Homo sapiens: one gene and its partner. The protein of the gene in region 1 interacts with the protein of each later gene in a biochemical or structural test. Each region holds a gene or a part of one and is shown in the gene's direction. Other genes may lie near its edges. The genes, in order: ZP3 and ACR.

Region 1 (7,898 bases):
CTCCTCCCCTTCCTCTTCCCCTTCCTATTCCTCTTCCTCTTCTTCCCTCCTCCTCCACCTCCTCCTTCTTCTTCATAGAGATAAAGTCTCACTATGTTGCCCAGCTGTTCCCAAACTCCTGGCCTCAAGAAATCCTCCTGCTTCGGCCTCCCAAAATCGTGTGCTGGGATTATAGGTGTGAGCCACCACACTCACACCAGATGTTCTTTTTCTGCAAAAACCTTGGCTTTTTGATCCTTAGCTCTTCCATATAAATTTTAGAATCAGTTTACTAAGCTCTGCCCACATACAGCTAAAACATGTTGGGATCTTGATAGAAATTACAGATTAATTTTGGGAGAATTGAAATAGTGATGATATTGCATTTCCCATCCATGAACATGGAATACCTCTGTAAATTTAGACATTCTTTACTCTGACTGCCAATACAGTTTTGTTAATTTTTCCTCAAAGATCTTACATATCTTTTTTTGTCTGTTTTATACCTAGGAACTTCATATTTTGTTTTAGCAATTGCTTTTGGAACTTGGTTAACAGCATCGTCTTCTGTCTCACTTGAATCTGACACAGAGAGTTTTTTATGTTTTTGGTTATTTTTTGTTTTACTTTTTATTTTGAAATTAAACTGATGAAAGTTGCACAGATAACACTAAGAAACCTGTTTACCTTTTACCCAGGTTCAGCCAATATAAAGATTGATACATATCCTCCCTCTCTCCCTGTATCTCTTTATATTTATGTCTATATATAACATATATATACACATACATATATATTTCCACGTGTGTGTGTGTGTGTGTGTGTGTCTCCACTTTTTTTTTTTTTTAGTGAGACTAAGTCTCAGTCTGTCACCCAAGCTGGAGAGCAGTGGCACAATCTCAGCTCACTGCAACCTCCACCTCCCAGGTTCAAGTGATTCTCTTGCCTCAGCCTCCTGAGTAGCTGGGATTATAGGCGTGTGCCACCACGTCAGCTAATTTTTTGTATTTTTAGTAGAGATGGGGTTTCACCATATTGGCCAGGCTGGTCTTAAACTCCTGACCTCGTGATCTGCTCGTCTCAGCCTCCCAAAGTGCTGGGATGACAGGCGTGAGCCACTGCGCCCCGCCATTTCCACATTTTTTTGAGATGAGGTCTCACTCTATTGCCCAGGCTGGAATGCAGTAGCATGATCATGACTCACTGAAGCTTAGAACTCCCAGGCTCAAGCAACCCAAGTAGCTAGGTTCCCAAGTAGCTAGGACTACAGCTTCCCAAGTAGCTAGGACTACAGGTGTGTGCCAACATGCCTGACTAATTTCTTTGATTTTGTAGAGATGGGGCCTCACTGTATTGTCCAGGCTGGTCTCGAACTCCTGGGCTCAAGCAATCCTCCCACCTTAGCCTCCCAAAGTGCTGAGATTACAGATGTGAGCCATTATGCCTGGCAGATTTTTAATTTTTTAAAATTATATATATATACACACACATATATATGTATAATTTTTTTTTTTTTTGAGATGGAGTCTCGCCCAGGCTGGAGTGCAGTGGCGCAATCTCGGCTCACTGCAACATCTGCTTCCCAGGTTTAAGCAATTCTCCCACCTCAGCCTCCTGAGTAGCTGGGACTACAGGCATGAGCCACCATGCCCAGCTAATGCCATTAGTTTTTGTATTCTTCCTCCTCTCTTGCAGGAATTTCACCCAGGGACAGCATAGAGTAGGCCATTGGTAAATGCTGTACCTGTCAGTCCTTCATCATCTCCTGATAGGACCCTTGCAGTAGACTTTTGTTGTTGTTGTTTTGTTTTGAGACAGAGTGTTGCTCTGTTACCCAGGCTGGAGTACAGCGGCGTGATCTTGGCTCACTACAACCTCCACCTCCTGGGTTCAAGCGATTCTCCCGCCTCAGCCTCCCAAGTAGCTGGGATTACAGGCATGTGCCACCACACCAGGCTAATTTTGTATTTTTAGTAGAGACGGGGTTTCTCCATATTGGCTTAGGCTGGTCTCGATCTCCTGACCTCAGGTGATCCGCCCACCTCGGCCTCCCAAAATGCTGGGATTACAGACATGAGCCACTACGCCCGGCCAATACTATTCCTTTCATGGCCTCTTTTTCCCACAGGGCTAAGTCCAGCATCTCAGCCTGGCACCCACAGGGTTCTGCCCCGCCCACCTCCCCGGCCTCCTAAATTGCTACTCTCACTCCCAGGGACCTGAGGCTTCACCAGGTTACCTACCCCAACCATGGGTCCTCAGGCCCTCAGTGCAATAGAAATTGACATGAGGTGGCCAGGCGCGGTGGCTCACGCCTATAATCCCAGCACTTTGGGAGGCTGAGGCAGGCGGATCACCTGAGGTCAGGAGTTCCAGACCAGCCTGACCAACATGGTGGAACCCTGTCTTTACTAAAAATACAAAAAGTAGCTGGGCTTGGTGGCAGGCGCCTGTAATCCCAGCTACTCAGGAGGCTGAGGGAGGAGAATTGCTTGAATCCAGGAGGAGGAGGTTGCAGTGAGCTGAGATCGCGCCACTGCACTCCAGCCTGGGCGACAGAGCAAGATTCCGTCTCAAAAAAAAAAAAAAGAAAGAAAAGAAATTAACATGAGGGCCAGGCACAGTGGCTCACACCTGTAATCCCAGCACTTTGGGAGGCCGAGGAGGGAGAATCACTTGAGGTCCAGAGTTCGAGACCAGCCTGGCCAACATGGTGAAACCCCGTCTTTACTAAAAATACAAAAGTTAGCCGGGCATGGTGACGGGTGCCTGTAATCCCAGCTACTCGGGAGGCTGAGGTGGAGAATCACTTGAACCCAGGAGGCGGAGGTTGCAGTGAGTCGAGATAGCACCACTGCACTCCAGCCTGGGCGACAGAATGAGATCCTGTCTCAAAAGAAAGAAAGAGAGAGAGAGAGAGAGAGAAAGAAAGAAAGAAAGAAAGAAAGAAAGAAAGAAAGAAAGAAAGAAAGAAAGAAAGAAAAGAAATTGACAGGAGGCTAAACGAGTTTTCCTAGACAAAGCTTCATTGGAGCTTATGCCCAGACATAAAGGAGGCAGCATGAGAGAGAGAGGGAGAGAGAGGGAAAGAGAGAGGGAGAGAGAGGGAAAGAGAGAGAGAGAGGGAAAGAGAGAGAGAGAGGGAAAGATATAGAGATTTTTCTATCTGACTCTCCAAAAAGAGCCAGGAGGGCTTTTTTATTAGGCAAAGCATGGGAATTTACATCAGGGATAGGGCATGCCGGCTGTGCTGGGCAAAGCACGTGAAGGTATGCAGGTTGGCATTATCTGGTTGCCATGGTTATCTTGAGTTATGGGCCACCTGGTAGTCTGGCTGGTGGCAACAAGGCTGTCAATCAGTTCAGCATTCCTTCCTGAGGTGGGACACTCCACAACCTTGGTTTGATATTTGAATCTCCTAAGGTCAGTTCCTGGGATTCTCTTAAGTAATAGGCATGTTTCCACATGATGATGTCAGTGAAATCGTGGTATGGGTCTGGTGATCACTGGGAATGCAGGAAAGAATGCAGTGGTTGGGCCAGGTGTGGTGGCTCATGTCTGTAATCCCAGCACTTTGGGAGACTGAGGTGGGCGGATCCCTTGTGGTGAGGAGCTGGGCATGGTGGAACAAGCCTGTAATCCCAGTTACTCGGGAGAGTAAGGCAGAAGAATTGCTTGAACCTGGGAGGCGGAGGCTGCAGTGAGCTGAGATTGCACCACTACACTCCAGCCTGGGCAACAGAGTGAGATTGTCTCAAAAAAAAAAAAGAATGCCCTGGTCGGGGTGAGCTGAAGCCAAGCCCCGCTTCTGCTGTGTCTCAGTATGAACTCCGGGGGATTCACCCAGGAATGAAGAACGCAGGGCCCCTTCTCCACCTCTCTTCACACAGCTGCCTCTGCCTGAACTGACCTACCCCCCGGCCTCCCATAAAATAAGGCAGAGACCCATGAAATTCCTCCTGTCTCCTAATTGATACCGCCTCCTTTTTCTCACACTTGGAATGAGCTCCTTATGTCTCAGATCTAATCCCCCTGACTCTTCAATCAAGGGCTTTCTCCTGTGTCCCCCACAGACCTGGGACAGCTCCCTTGCCGGGCTGCGAGCTTCCTAAGGGCAGGGCCAGCAGGGGATCGGAGGGAAGCTGTGATACATTGTGGTGCACCAGGCAGGCAGCACACTCTTTGCAAACTTTTACATGAATACACATGGGGATTTACAAGCTAAAAACTTTCAAGTGGGCTGGGGCGGGCGCGGTGGCTCACACCTGTCATCCCAGCACTTTGGGAGGCTGAGGCAGGAGGATCACTGGAGGTCAGGACTTCAAGACCAGCCTGCCCAACATAGTGAAACCCTGTCTCTACCAAAAATACAAAAATTAGCCAGGCGCGGTGGCGCATGCCTTCCTGTAATCCCAGCTATTTGGGAGTCTGAGGCAGGAGAATCACTTGAACCTGGCTGAGAAGTGGAGGATGCAGTGAAACGAGATCATACCACTGCACTCCAGCCTGGACAACAGAGTGAGACTCTGTCTCAAAACAAAACAAAACACAACAAAAACAAACAAACCACAAACACACACACACACAGCAAAAAAAAACTTTAATGTGGATACACGTGGGGGATTTCCAAGCTAAAAACCAAATTCTGCTGTGGTCATGCTGGGGTGAAGGCTGAGAGTTTGCAGTTCTAACAAGCTCCCAGGTGTTACTGATGCTTCTGGATGGAGACCACTTTATGCAACAAGGGCCCAGCTGGCTAGGGAAGGGAGGCAGCTGAGAAGCTGAGAGCCCAGGTGGCAGCAGCCAGCATCCCACGGGTATAAGATGGCCAGAGGCGGCTGCCTGCTGCTCTGCAGGTACCATGGAGCTGAGCTATAGGCTCTTCATCTGCCTCCTGCTCTGGGGTAGTACTGAGCTGTGCTACCCCCAACCCCTCTGGCTCTTGCAGGGTGGAGCCAGCCATCCTGAGACGTCCGTACAGCCCGTACTGGTGGAGTGTCAGGAGGCCACTCTGATGGTCATGGTCAGCAAAGACCTTTTTGGCACCGGGAAGCTCATCAGGGCTGCTGACCTCACCTTGGGCCCAGAGGCCTGTGAGCCTCTGGTCTCCATGGACACAGAAGATGTGGTCAGGTTTGAGGTTGGACTCCACGAGTGTGGCAACAGCATGCAGGTAAGAGAGGCTGGGGGCCCTGGCTTTGGTGGGAGGATGTTCGAGGCAGCCGGGTATGGGGACTGTGGCCACCATCGGTGGGAGGTGGGGTTGGGTGGATCCCTCTCACTTGTAGGTGGGGAGGTGGCCCAGTTGAGGCCTGAAGCTGGCACTGAGGTCACCGGACCCAGGGCAGCTCCTGCCTCTGATGCCCGACATTGGGTCGATGGGGTGGAGCCAGAGGTGGCCGTGCACTTCAGGCTGGCCCAAGCCACGCCACTCTCTCTCAGGTGGGTTTGTGACACACACAGGCCTGCGTGATAGGATAGCCCTGTGGGTAGCCTAAGGGGCTGTTTCTAAGGCTGGGGGCATTAGGAACTCATCCTGAAGAGACCCAAAGTATACATTATCTTAAAAACAACAAGTGGGCCGGGTGCAGTGGCTCATGCCTGTAGTCCCAGCACTATGGGAGGCCAAGACTGGAGGATCACTTGAGGCCAGGAGTTTGAGGCCAGCCTGGGCAACATAGTGAGACCCCATCTCTTAAGCCTTTAAAAAAACTAACTGGGGCCTGGTGTGGTGGCTCACGCCTGTAATTCCAGCACTTTGGGAGGCTGAGGAGTTTGAGACCAGCCTGGCCAACATGGTGAAACCCCATCTCTACTAATAATACAAAAATTAGCCAGGCATGGTGGTGCGTGTCTGTAATCCCAGCTACTCAGGAGGCTGAGGCAGGAGAATCGCTTGAACCCAGGAGGCAAAGGTTGCAGTGAGCTGAGATTGTGCCACTGCACTCCAGCCTAGGCAACAGAGCGAGACTCTGGCTCAAAAAAAAAAAAAAAATTCCACATAGATAAGTGGTATGGGGGCGGGGGCATCATAACCTTGGTGTTAAAGACCTTAAAAGCATCAGTGGGTCCCTGGGGGCAGCTCCAAGGGGGAGAGGCTTAACCTGTGGTACATGCAGGAAAAGACCAAGAAATCCAGGCCAGACCTCCCTTTCCCTAGCCAGTGGGGAAAGAGGCTGCAAGGAGAGGCCTTACGGCAGGGCAGGGCTGGGCACACAGCTCCCCAGCTAAACCCTGATCCCTGGACCAAGTTCCTGTGGTCCCATGGAGGGCCTGTCCTCTCCCGCCTCAGGGGAACCTGGCTCCTCCTCACCTGGGCCTAGACCCAGTAGCTTGCCTGGGATGGGGGCAAGTCCAGCCCCTGGAGCCCTCCGGCCAGAGCTCTGGTCTTAACTGTGGTCTCCTGGGCTCTCTTTGAGGACTCGAGGCCCTTGTTTTCCTGGGGAGGGAGGCCAGAGAGCTGCAGGAGTTACTTGAGGAATTATTCCAGTTTAGAGGCTCACAAACATGTCTTAGATTTACTTGGGGAGCCAGGTGCCTGGCTCCCCCCCCTTCTGTGAAATGGGCTTTAATAGGTTAGAAGCTGATAAGTGGTATTTTTTTGTTGTTGTTTTTGTTTTTTGAGACAGTTTTGCTCTTATTGCCCAGGCTGGAGTGCAATGGCGCCTATAATCCCAGCACTTTGGGAGGCTGAGATGGGAGGATCACTTGGGCCCGGGAGTTTAAGGCCACCCTGGGCAACATAATGAGACCCCCTTCTCTACCAAACACCACACACACACACACACACACACACACACACACAATAGGGTGTGGTGGCGCCTGCCTTTAGTCTCAGCTACTTGGGAGGCTGAAGTGGGAGGATTGCTTAAACCCATGATTTGGAGGCTGCAGTGAGCTACGATTGTGCCACTGCATTCCAGCCTGGAAGGCAGAGCAAGACCCTCTTTTATTAACCCCACCTGTGGAGCTTCTAAAAATCCTGATGTCCAGGCTGCTAAAATAGAAAGGATGTGGGACCAGCTGTGGGTAATAAGGATCTCAGGTGACTCCAATGAGGAGCAAAGCCTGCAAACTCCTTCCTCTGGTGTGGTGTTTCCCAGTTTTGCCCGGTGAGAATCACCTGCGGCTGGCCGTGCGCAGTGGCTCACGCCTGTAATCCCAGCACTTTGGGAGGCCGAGGCGGGTGAATCACGAGGTCAGGAGTTCAAGACCAGCCTGGCCACGATGGTGAAACCTCATCTCTACTAAAAATACAAAGAAGTTAGCCGGGTGTGGTGGCGGGCACCTGTAATCCCAGCTACTCAGGAGTCTGAGGCAGAGAATTGCTTGAACCCGGGAGGCGTAGGTTGCAGTGAGTTGAGATCGTGCCACTGCACTCCAGCCTGGGCAACAGAGTGAGACTCCGTCTCAAAAAAAAAAAAAAAAAAAATACAGCCATGGCCAGTTTCCCAGGTATACAACCTGTGCAGTTCTGTGGGGCCCAGTGCTTAATGGAATGCCCTCTTGCCCTGAAATGGTAATAACTTTTGAATAAGGGGCCCCACGAGCTATGCTGGTTCTGTCTGTGCTGGGGCACTTGCTAATAAGGTCTAGGACTATTCCCTGAAGATCGAGTTTGGTCAGGGCCAGGCAGCCACCTGAGCTCTTGGGCAACTTCGACCTCCTAGGCTCAAGCCATCCTCCTGCCTCAGCCTCCTGAATAGCTGGGATGGACTACAGGCACATGCCACCGTGCCCAGCCAAGTTATGTTTTTGTAGAGATGGGGTCTAGCTCTATTGCCCAGGCTGGTCGTGACTTCCTGGCCTCAAGCAATCCTCTTCCCTCCCAAAGTGCTGGGATTACAGGCATGAGCCACTGCACCCAGCCCTCAAGTAGTTTTTAAATAAGCTCCCTGAGATGAGAGGTGGGGATAGTG
Region 2 (7,819 bases), on another chromosome or scaffold:
CCTGCCAGCATCCCCTGCTCCCTCCCCATGCACACATGCTGCTCGCCAGTCTCCCCCCACCTCCTGCAATCCCTGAGCCGCTATGACGCTTCAGGGCTCTGTCTCACACATGCCCTCTTCCTTCTGCCTGGATCACCCATCGTTTGCCTGCATCAAGCATACATAGCTTGGAGGCTGATCTCCGGATCCTGTCTTCCAGGACGTTTTCTCTGACCCGCCCTCCCTGGAGTCCCAGTTAGATGTTAGGCTCTGCGTCTGCACGGCCCTGGTGCTATCTCAAATTAGAGCAAGTTGGTGCTTCTCACCTTGGGTTGTCTGCCCAGTTGGATGTGAGGTTTCCTTTTTGCTCCCACCCTGAGCACCAGAGACAAGACATTGTCCTTCAGGAGCGCACAGGCAGTCATGTGAGCAGCCGATAATGTGGCAAAAAAGACACGTCCTGGGTGGCACCTGGTGGGGGTGGCCAGCCAACAGGAGGGACAGAGACCCCTCGCTGAGTGGAAGGAGGTGGTGAGCTATGTCTTGAAGGGCAAACAGTAAGGCAAGTGGGCAAAGGCAATCAAGAGGGAGCCGTGAGAAAGTAGAGGGCACAGGACCCAGCACTGAGGCCAGGGGCTGCAGAGATGTGACGTCCCCGGTGGGGAGGGTTGCTTACAGGAGGGGCAGTGGTTTCAGAGCCTGGACACACTGGGTTGAGGAGGCGCGTGAATATGACAGAATGACAATCGCATACCTTGGCTCTGTGGTTAACCTTAGCCAGGGGTGGGGCCGGTGGCACCGTGGAGAAGTGCCACTAGCCCCAGACTCTGAGTCCCCATGGAGGCCTAGGGCTCCATGTGCAGCCCAGGGAGACCCACCCTCCCGATTCCACACACTCAGGCCCAGAGCGAGTCAGGGGCCCCCTGCTCCCACACTCAGACCCTTGCAGGGCCCCCCTCCTTGACTTCCCGTGCAGCCCTTTCCTTATGATGGCCTCAGTTTCTAATCTGAAAATAAGATGAGGATTAGGAAATGTTGAAAATTTGAAATTGTGTGGCCTCTGCTCTTCCTGTGGGCTGGCACCCCCCAGCCACTCCCAAGACCTGTGGACAACTTTGGGGCAGGGCCAGGACATGGAGGCTGCTTTTGTTTTGTTTTGAGACAAGGTCTCACCCTGTCACCCAGGCTGGAGTGCAGGGGCATGATCGTGGCTCACTGTAGCCTCAACCTCCTGGAATTGAGCGATCCTCCTGCCTCAGCCTCCCAAGTAGCTGGGACTGCAAGCGTGGGCCATCACACCTGACTAATTTTTTTTTTATTTTTTATGAGATGGGGGCCTCATTTTGCTGCCCAGGCTGGTCTAGAACTCCACCCTCCTTAGCCTTTCAAAGTGCTTCGATGACAGGTGTGGGCCACCTTGCCCAGCCTGAGGCTGGTTTTCAAGCTGTCATCAACCATAGCCTCAAAGGGCCTTCGTCCTTCTCCATGGCGCCACCCAGACCCTCACCTGCTTGCTTAAACCACCCCCGAGGCACCTGCTTCCCCTGGGTGAAGACCTGAAACCTACCCCTTTTCGGCCCTCAAGGTTTCACTGCGTCAACCATTCTTACTCCCTCTGGGATCTTCTTGCCTTCCTGGCTGGCTGGACATTGAGGATGGTTGGATAAGGTTTCTGCTCCTCACGGAGGGTGGTGGGGACAGGAATGGAAAAGTAGGGGATTGGGGGCTGGAAGGGATTGGAGATCAGGGTGAGAAAAACTGGGGTGGGAGTTGGATTGCCCAGGTAAATAAGGCATGGGGACAGAAGTGGGCACGGCTGGCGAAGGCAGCGGGTGGTTGGGGTGAGCAGGAGCAGCGAGAATGGCTGGGATGAGCTGGAGGGGTGCCTGGGGGTCAGGGTGGAAGCAGAGAGCAGGGAGGAGTTTGAGGGGAGATGGGGAGCCCCCATCCTGCCCCCTGTGCTGAGCACTCTGCCTCAGCCTGAGCCATGCCCTCGGATGGGACCCCACCCTCTGGCCCCAGACCTGTCACCCATTTCTCCTTCGCTCTTAGAACAGCATGAAGAAGGTCAGACAAAGTCACTCTGAGTTGAGATGTTTGTTGCTTCCATTAGTTTAATGACAAAATTAAATGGGCCGGGCCAGGTACTTTTCCCGCAACCATCACTATAGCCACGGGCAGGCACGATGACTGGCAGCCCCTTCTAGAATCAGAAGTGGGTAAGCTTTGCGGAGTCAAACTGTAATGGTCTTCTAGAATCCAGACACTGACATTGGGTCTTCAGACTTTTTTATTGATACCTCCTAAATATTTGTAAAGAAATAGGTGCTATCCATTAAAAACACCCGAATAATATTTTCTTTAACAGTCAAAACTTTAATCTTCTTCTTTTTTTTTTTTGAGACAGGGTTTCACTCCCATTGCCCAAGCTTGAGTGCAATGGTGCGATCTCGGCTCACTGCAACTTCTGCCTTCTGGGTTCAAATGATTCTCCTGCCTCAGCTTTCTGAGTAGCTGGGATGCAGGTGCCACTGCACCTGGCTAATTTTTGTATTTTTTGTACAGACGGGGTTTTGCCGTGTTGCCCAGGCTGGTCTGGGGCTCCTGAGCTCAAGTGATCTGCCTGCCTCACCCTCTCAAAGTGCTGGGATTACAGGCATGAGCCTCTGCACTTGGGCCCACTTCTTCAATTCTTCTTGCCATTTCTTGAACCATATTTCCAAAGTCTTTTTCTGGTTATTTATGAGACACAACTTGATGCTCAGTTAAAATAAGTGAGGTCCGCTAACACTCAGTAGTGCAGCTGAAACCTATTCACATTCAAGTCACGAAATAGAACTTGTATGCCCTTCAGCTAGAGGAAGTGGGGCTACCTGACATAAAGGTAGAAAAATCCCCTGACACTCGGAGGAGATAAAGTGTCATGACTTAGATAGGGCATATAGGAGATAGGAGGTTTCATGACTCTCAGGTAAGGGAGATGAGACCTCCAGACAACCAGGAAGAGGTGAGAATACCTCCAGACCTCAGGGGGTTGAGATGAGAACTTTGGACACCCAGAATAGAGGAGATCTCATGATACTCTAGCAGAGGAGATGAAAGCTCCATGCCATTTAGACAGGGATATGAGACTATATTCAAGTAGAGGGTAGGACATGCCCTGGCACCCAGATGGGGGCAATGAGATCTCCCAACACTCTGGTATACCGGTGGAGACTTCAGAACATTCATATAGGTAAAATACAACCTCTTGACATTCAGCTGGAAGATGTAAGACCTCTTGATTTTCAGGTAGAGAAAGTGCGACAGGGTGACACTTGGGTGGTGGAGGTGAGAATTCTTAACCTGTAGGTGGAGGCGATGAGGGCCTCTGGCACTGAAGTGGAAAAACAGAGTTGTTATTTCTTTCAAAGAAGGAGGTGATCACTCCCTGATACTGGGTAAGATATACGAGACCTATTGAACATTCATTTGAGGATGTCATAAGTACGACATTCAGTTAGAGAAAATAGATAAATCAAGATCATCTGATAATCTGAAAACTCAACACTCAGGAATAGGAGATGAGATGTCCTGACACTCAGGTTGGAGGCATGGGACCTTCTGACACCCACTTAGATGATGTGCAACCTATTGACCCTCGGGCTGGTTGAGATCTTACATTCAGGTAGAAGAGGTAAGGCTGCCCTCATGCAGGTAAGAGTGTGACCTCCTGACACTTGCAGGCGATGGGAAATGTTTTAACATTCAGGTGTTTGCAATAAGCATTTGTCACACTCTGGTAGGTGAGATGCTAGTTCCTGATGATCAGATGGGAAAAATGATGCTTCATGATATTCAGGTAGCTGTATGAAAACTCTTGACATTCAAGTATAGGAGAAAACACCTTGCTCCACCTCAGTCACAGAAAGCCGATCTGGAGACATTCAGGATAATAGGAGACCTTGTGATATTCAGCAACGGACAGGAAGGTGGGCTTTGCAGTTGTAAATTAGGAAAATTCAAAATGACTCTTGGAAAAGTGTGTTGATAGCATTCACTTGGAAGAGGAAAAGAAAACTTCCCCAACAACAATTAAGGATCAATTAATCTGCTGACCCTGACTCCTCTGATCCACAAACATGTTGCACCGTCTCATCACTGAAGGGCTGAGCCGCTCCTCAGTCTGTGAGTCTGCAGTGGTCACAGCACGCATGAGAGGCAGACTCTGAACCTGCACAAAGCCAGAGCCTTGGGTGATGTGGGGACCTCGCAAGAGTTACTGGGAATGGAGATCCTGGCCTTGGGACAGAGGGAGTGGGGCTGCACAGGAGTCCCCCATCATCCTGGTGGTGGGGGAGCCTATGCAGGAAGTCAAGAAGTCTCTTCAGCACAAACCAGTTAAGGCGAGGGGCTCTTACCTGGCCTGACTGCTGGGGGTGGGGTGGGGGTCACCCCTGCTGATTGGCCAGGCAGCCACGGAGCTTTGTGAGGTCACTAGGCTTGCAGGCCAGGCAGTGCCAGGAGTATGGTTGAGATGCTACCAACTGCCATTCTGCTGGTCTTGGCAGTGTCCGTGGTTGCTAAAGATAACGCCACGTGTGAGTAAGTGTCGGGGCACCTTGGTGGGGGAAGGATCTTCTGAGGAGCAGGTACCACCCCGACTCCCTCTGTCCAGGGCTAGGGAAAAGGAGGCTGCATCCCTAACCTGGACCCCCCCTGCTCCCAGAATCAGCAGCCTGGAGCCCCCAGACCCTCAGCTTTCGTGGTTTCCTCCAGAGATGGACCCCTCAGCACCTCAGGCTCCTTGTGCCTCTCCCACTCCCCCAGGGACTGACCCCACTGTCTTGAAGACATGAAGTCCTGATTTTGGGAGCCCTTATCCCCCCACAGACAGCTGTCCCAACCCGTGGTTGCCCCCAACAGCCCCAGGATATCATCGCTTCACACCGCTTGCACCCCTACCCCCCAGTAGGCTCTCTCACTCCAAGGTACCCCGAAATACCAACACCTCCCAAGCTATATGTGGCCTCCCACCCGTGACACAGTTCCCAGAGCCTCCACCTCTAGACCTCCACTGCTCTCAGTGTGCCCCCTACACCTGTGGGCCACAGTATCTGCCCCTGGCTGCTATCCCTCCTCCCATCACTGTCAACGACCCCCTTCATCACCTGACTTCCCTGAGTCTCCCACCCAAGATTGGTTATAAGGACCTCAGGCCATTACACCCCTCTGTCCCCAGGCCCCGCATCCCCACCTCTACCCTCCTGTTCTGCCCAGGGACGGGCCATCCCTCAGGGCCCATGCAGCCTGTCCTGGCTTCCTATGGCCTCCTCTTTCTCCATCTGTGACTGCACCCACAAGACCTGAGAAGTCGTGGCCCCAGAACCATTTCCTAGAGCCTGCGGCTTCCTACATAGCGCAGGCTGCCCCTGCTTTCCCAGAACCCGGAAGCTCTTCCCCACTTTTCCCAACCCCATGTCCCTGCCTCCCCTCAGTTGTGGAGTTACAAGGACAGGCTGTGCTCATGCCAGGTTTGAACTGTGCTCTGGTCTCTCCCCAGTGGCCCCTGTGGGTTACGGTTCAGGCAAAACCCACAGGGTGGTGTCCGCATCGTCGGCGGGAAGGCTGCACAGCATGGGGCCTGGCCCTGGATGGTCAGCCTCCAGATCTTCACGTACAACAGCCACAGGTACCACACATGTGGAGGCAGCTTGCTGAATTCACGATGGGTGCTCACTGCTGCTCACTGCTTCGTCGGCAAAAAGTACGTGTAGGGATGCACTGAGGGAGGTCTTCAGAACGGCTCTTCTCAGAGAGGGGCGTTCCCCGGGGATGCTGTGCAGCGTCTCCCTGGGGCTCTGGGCCAAGTGGCTGCAAGACTCCGGGGGCTGGTCCAGACCTTTGCTAGGGGAAGGCCCTGAGGGTCGCTGTCACCAGGCTTTTGTCCAGCCGGTTGTGACCTGGCTTACCTTTGTGCCCACAGTAATGTGCATGACTGGAGACTGGTTTTCGGAGCAAAGGAAATTACATATGGGAACAATAAACCAGTAAAGGCGCCTCTGCAAGAGAGATATGTGGAGAAAATCATCATTCATGAAAAATACAACTCTGCGACAGAGGGAAATGACATTGCCCTCGTGGAGATCACCCCTCCCATTTCGTGTGGGCGCTTCATTGGGCCGGGCTGCCTGCCCCACTTTAAGGCAGGCCTCCCCAGAGGCTCCCAGAGCTGCTGGGTGGCCGGCTGGGGATATATAGAAGAGAAAGGTGAGTATGGGAGCGCCTCCAAGGGGGGACGCTGCTGGCCATTCTCCTGGTGGTCTTTGAGGTGCAGCGGTCACTTGTTGACACCCAGCCAGGCTGCTTTCATCCTCCTCACGGCGCTACACGTAGAGCCATCACTGTGGCCTTCCACAGTCCCCTGTGCCAGGTCACGTGATGGGTGACTCGTCTGGCTGTCTACGGGGGGGCTGACAGCAGGTGCAGGCAGAGCGCAGCGTTGCTTAGAATGGGGTTGAGGCTGTGTCTGTATTTGGCACCTGGGGCCCAAGCTGCTGGATCCTGGAAACAAGCAGCAACCCTGAAACAGCCTTTGGAGAAGAGCTCCAGATAAGGTTATGTGGCCGTATGACAGTGCCTTCCACTCTCTGGGCCTTGGTTTCCTCATCTGTAAATGGAGGGGCTGGATCAGATGGTCTCCAAGCTGACCATTTCCTAACACCTGTGATTCCAGGGCCCAGCCTTCCTGCTTCCAGGCTGTCTTTGTCACCATCAGCAGCCACCTCCGGTGCAGTCATAGCACCAAATCTACCCTCTCCATCTGAGTTACTTGACATTTGCTCTGTAGACTGGGAAGGGGACCGGTGGTTGGTGTGGCTTTCTGTGGGTCATAGGCATCCCTGTATTTCAGGCTTCCTGGAGTGTCCGGCAGGTACCTCTCCATTCAAGACGGGTGTAGCTGTCGCTCTAGAGCTCTGTCCATAACCAAGCTGTCTCTCTCTCCCCTGGCTCCCAGAAGATCTCTTGCCCATCCAACACTACCTGATACACTCGACACCAGATGAGTTCTAGAAGAGTAGGGGGAATTTCTTCCGTACCAGACCAGGCTCACGGAGGGCCCCAGGTGTGACCTAGAACAAATTGTCATTACTGACTCCGTGGTCAGAGACGCCCAGACACCTCTCCCTACATACTTAGGCACACTAGAGATACCATTTATCCCAGAAGCAACAGGTGACCCCATTAAATGGCAGCAGTGAGCAGCAAGGTTTTGCCAGCAGGACAAGACCCAGTAGGACTTGATCTCTGCATGTGACCTATACTTCCAGCTTTCCATAAGTGGTGCATCTCAATCTCTTTTTTTCTTGATAATGGATAATGAGGCTTCTTAATTCAAGGCAATTCAGTCATATGAGTCTAAAACGCAGCCTTTTTTGGGTAACAACAACAAAAAGTCAATAATTTGAGGATTCTTCCTTTAACTCTTATTTCCTTCTCTGAGGGCGTGGTCTAAGTTTCTGACAGGTTTGTCACCTCTCCTGTCCCTCAGGGAAGGGAGTCTCATCCCAGCTGTCCTTGTTCTCACTGGCCTCACTTGACACGTGGCCATCCCCTTCTGGCCTGGAGTGACAGCCTCTATTCCAGCTGCCGATACCCATGGCTCTGCCCTGGCCTCTGTCCAGCCCCCTAGCCTGCCATGCTCTGTCCCCTGTCTGATGATGTCCACAGCTCTTGGGGGTCCCTATGTTCCTGGGAGGCTGATCTTAGGGTCCCCACTGCCAACCGTTGCTGTCCTATTCTATTACTCAGACAGATTGTAGTGTCCTAGCTATATCTTGGATGCCATGCAAAACCTTTT

Evidence for each region.
Region 2: the proteins of ZP3 (region 1) and ACR form a complex in vitro, tested with the Homo sapiens proteins (one study listed by IntAct).

Annotation. Positions count from the first base shown.
Region 1 is NC_000007.14:76,420,125-76,428,022, forward strand, and holds the start of ZP3 (zona pellucida sperm-binding protein 3 isoform 1 precursor), read left to right. Parts: upstream 1-4,825; 5' UTR 4,826-4,840; coding exon 4,841-5,152; intron 5,153-7,898. UniProt on the Homo sapiens protein: Component of the zona pellucida, an extracellular matrix surrounding oocytes which mediates sperm binding, induction of the acrosome reaction and prevents post-fertilization polyspermy.
Region 2 is NC_000022.11:50,733,750-50,741,568, forward strand, and holds the start of ACR (acrosin precursor), read left to right. Parts: upstream 1-4,454; 5' UTR 4,455-4,486; coding exon 4,487-4,563; intron 4,564-5,521; coding exon 5,522-5,725; intron 5,726-5,944; coding exon 5,945-6,228; intron 6,229-7,819. UniProt on the Homo sapiens protein: Acrosin is the major protease of mammalian spermatozoa. It is a serine protease of trypsin-like cleavage specificity, it is synthesized in a zymogen form, proacrosin and stored in the acrosome.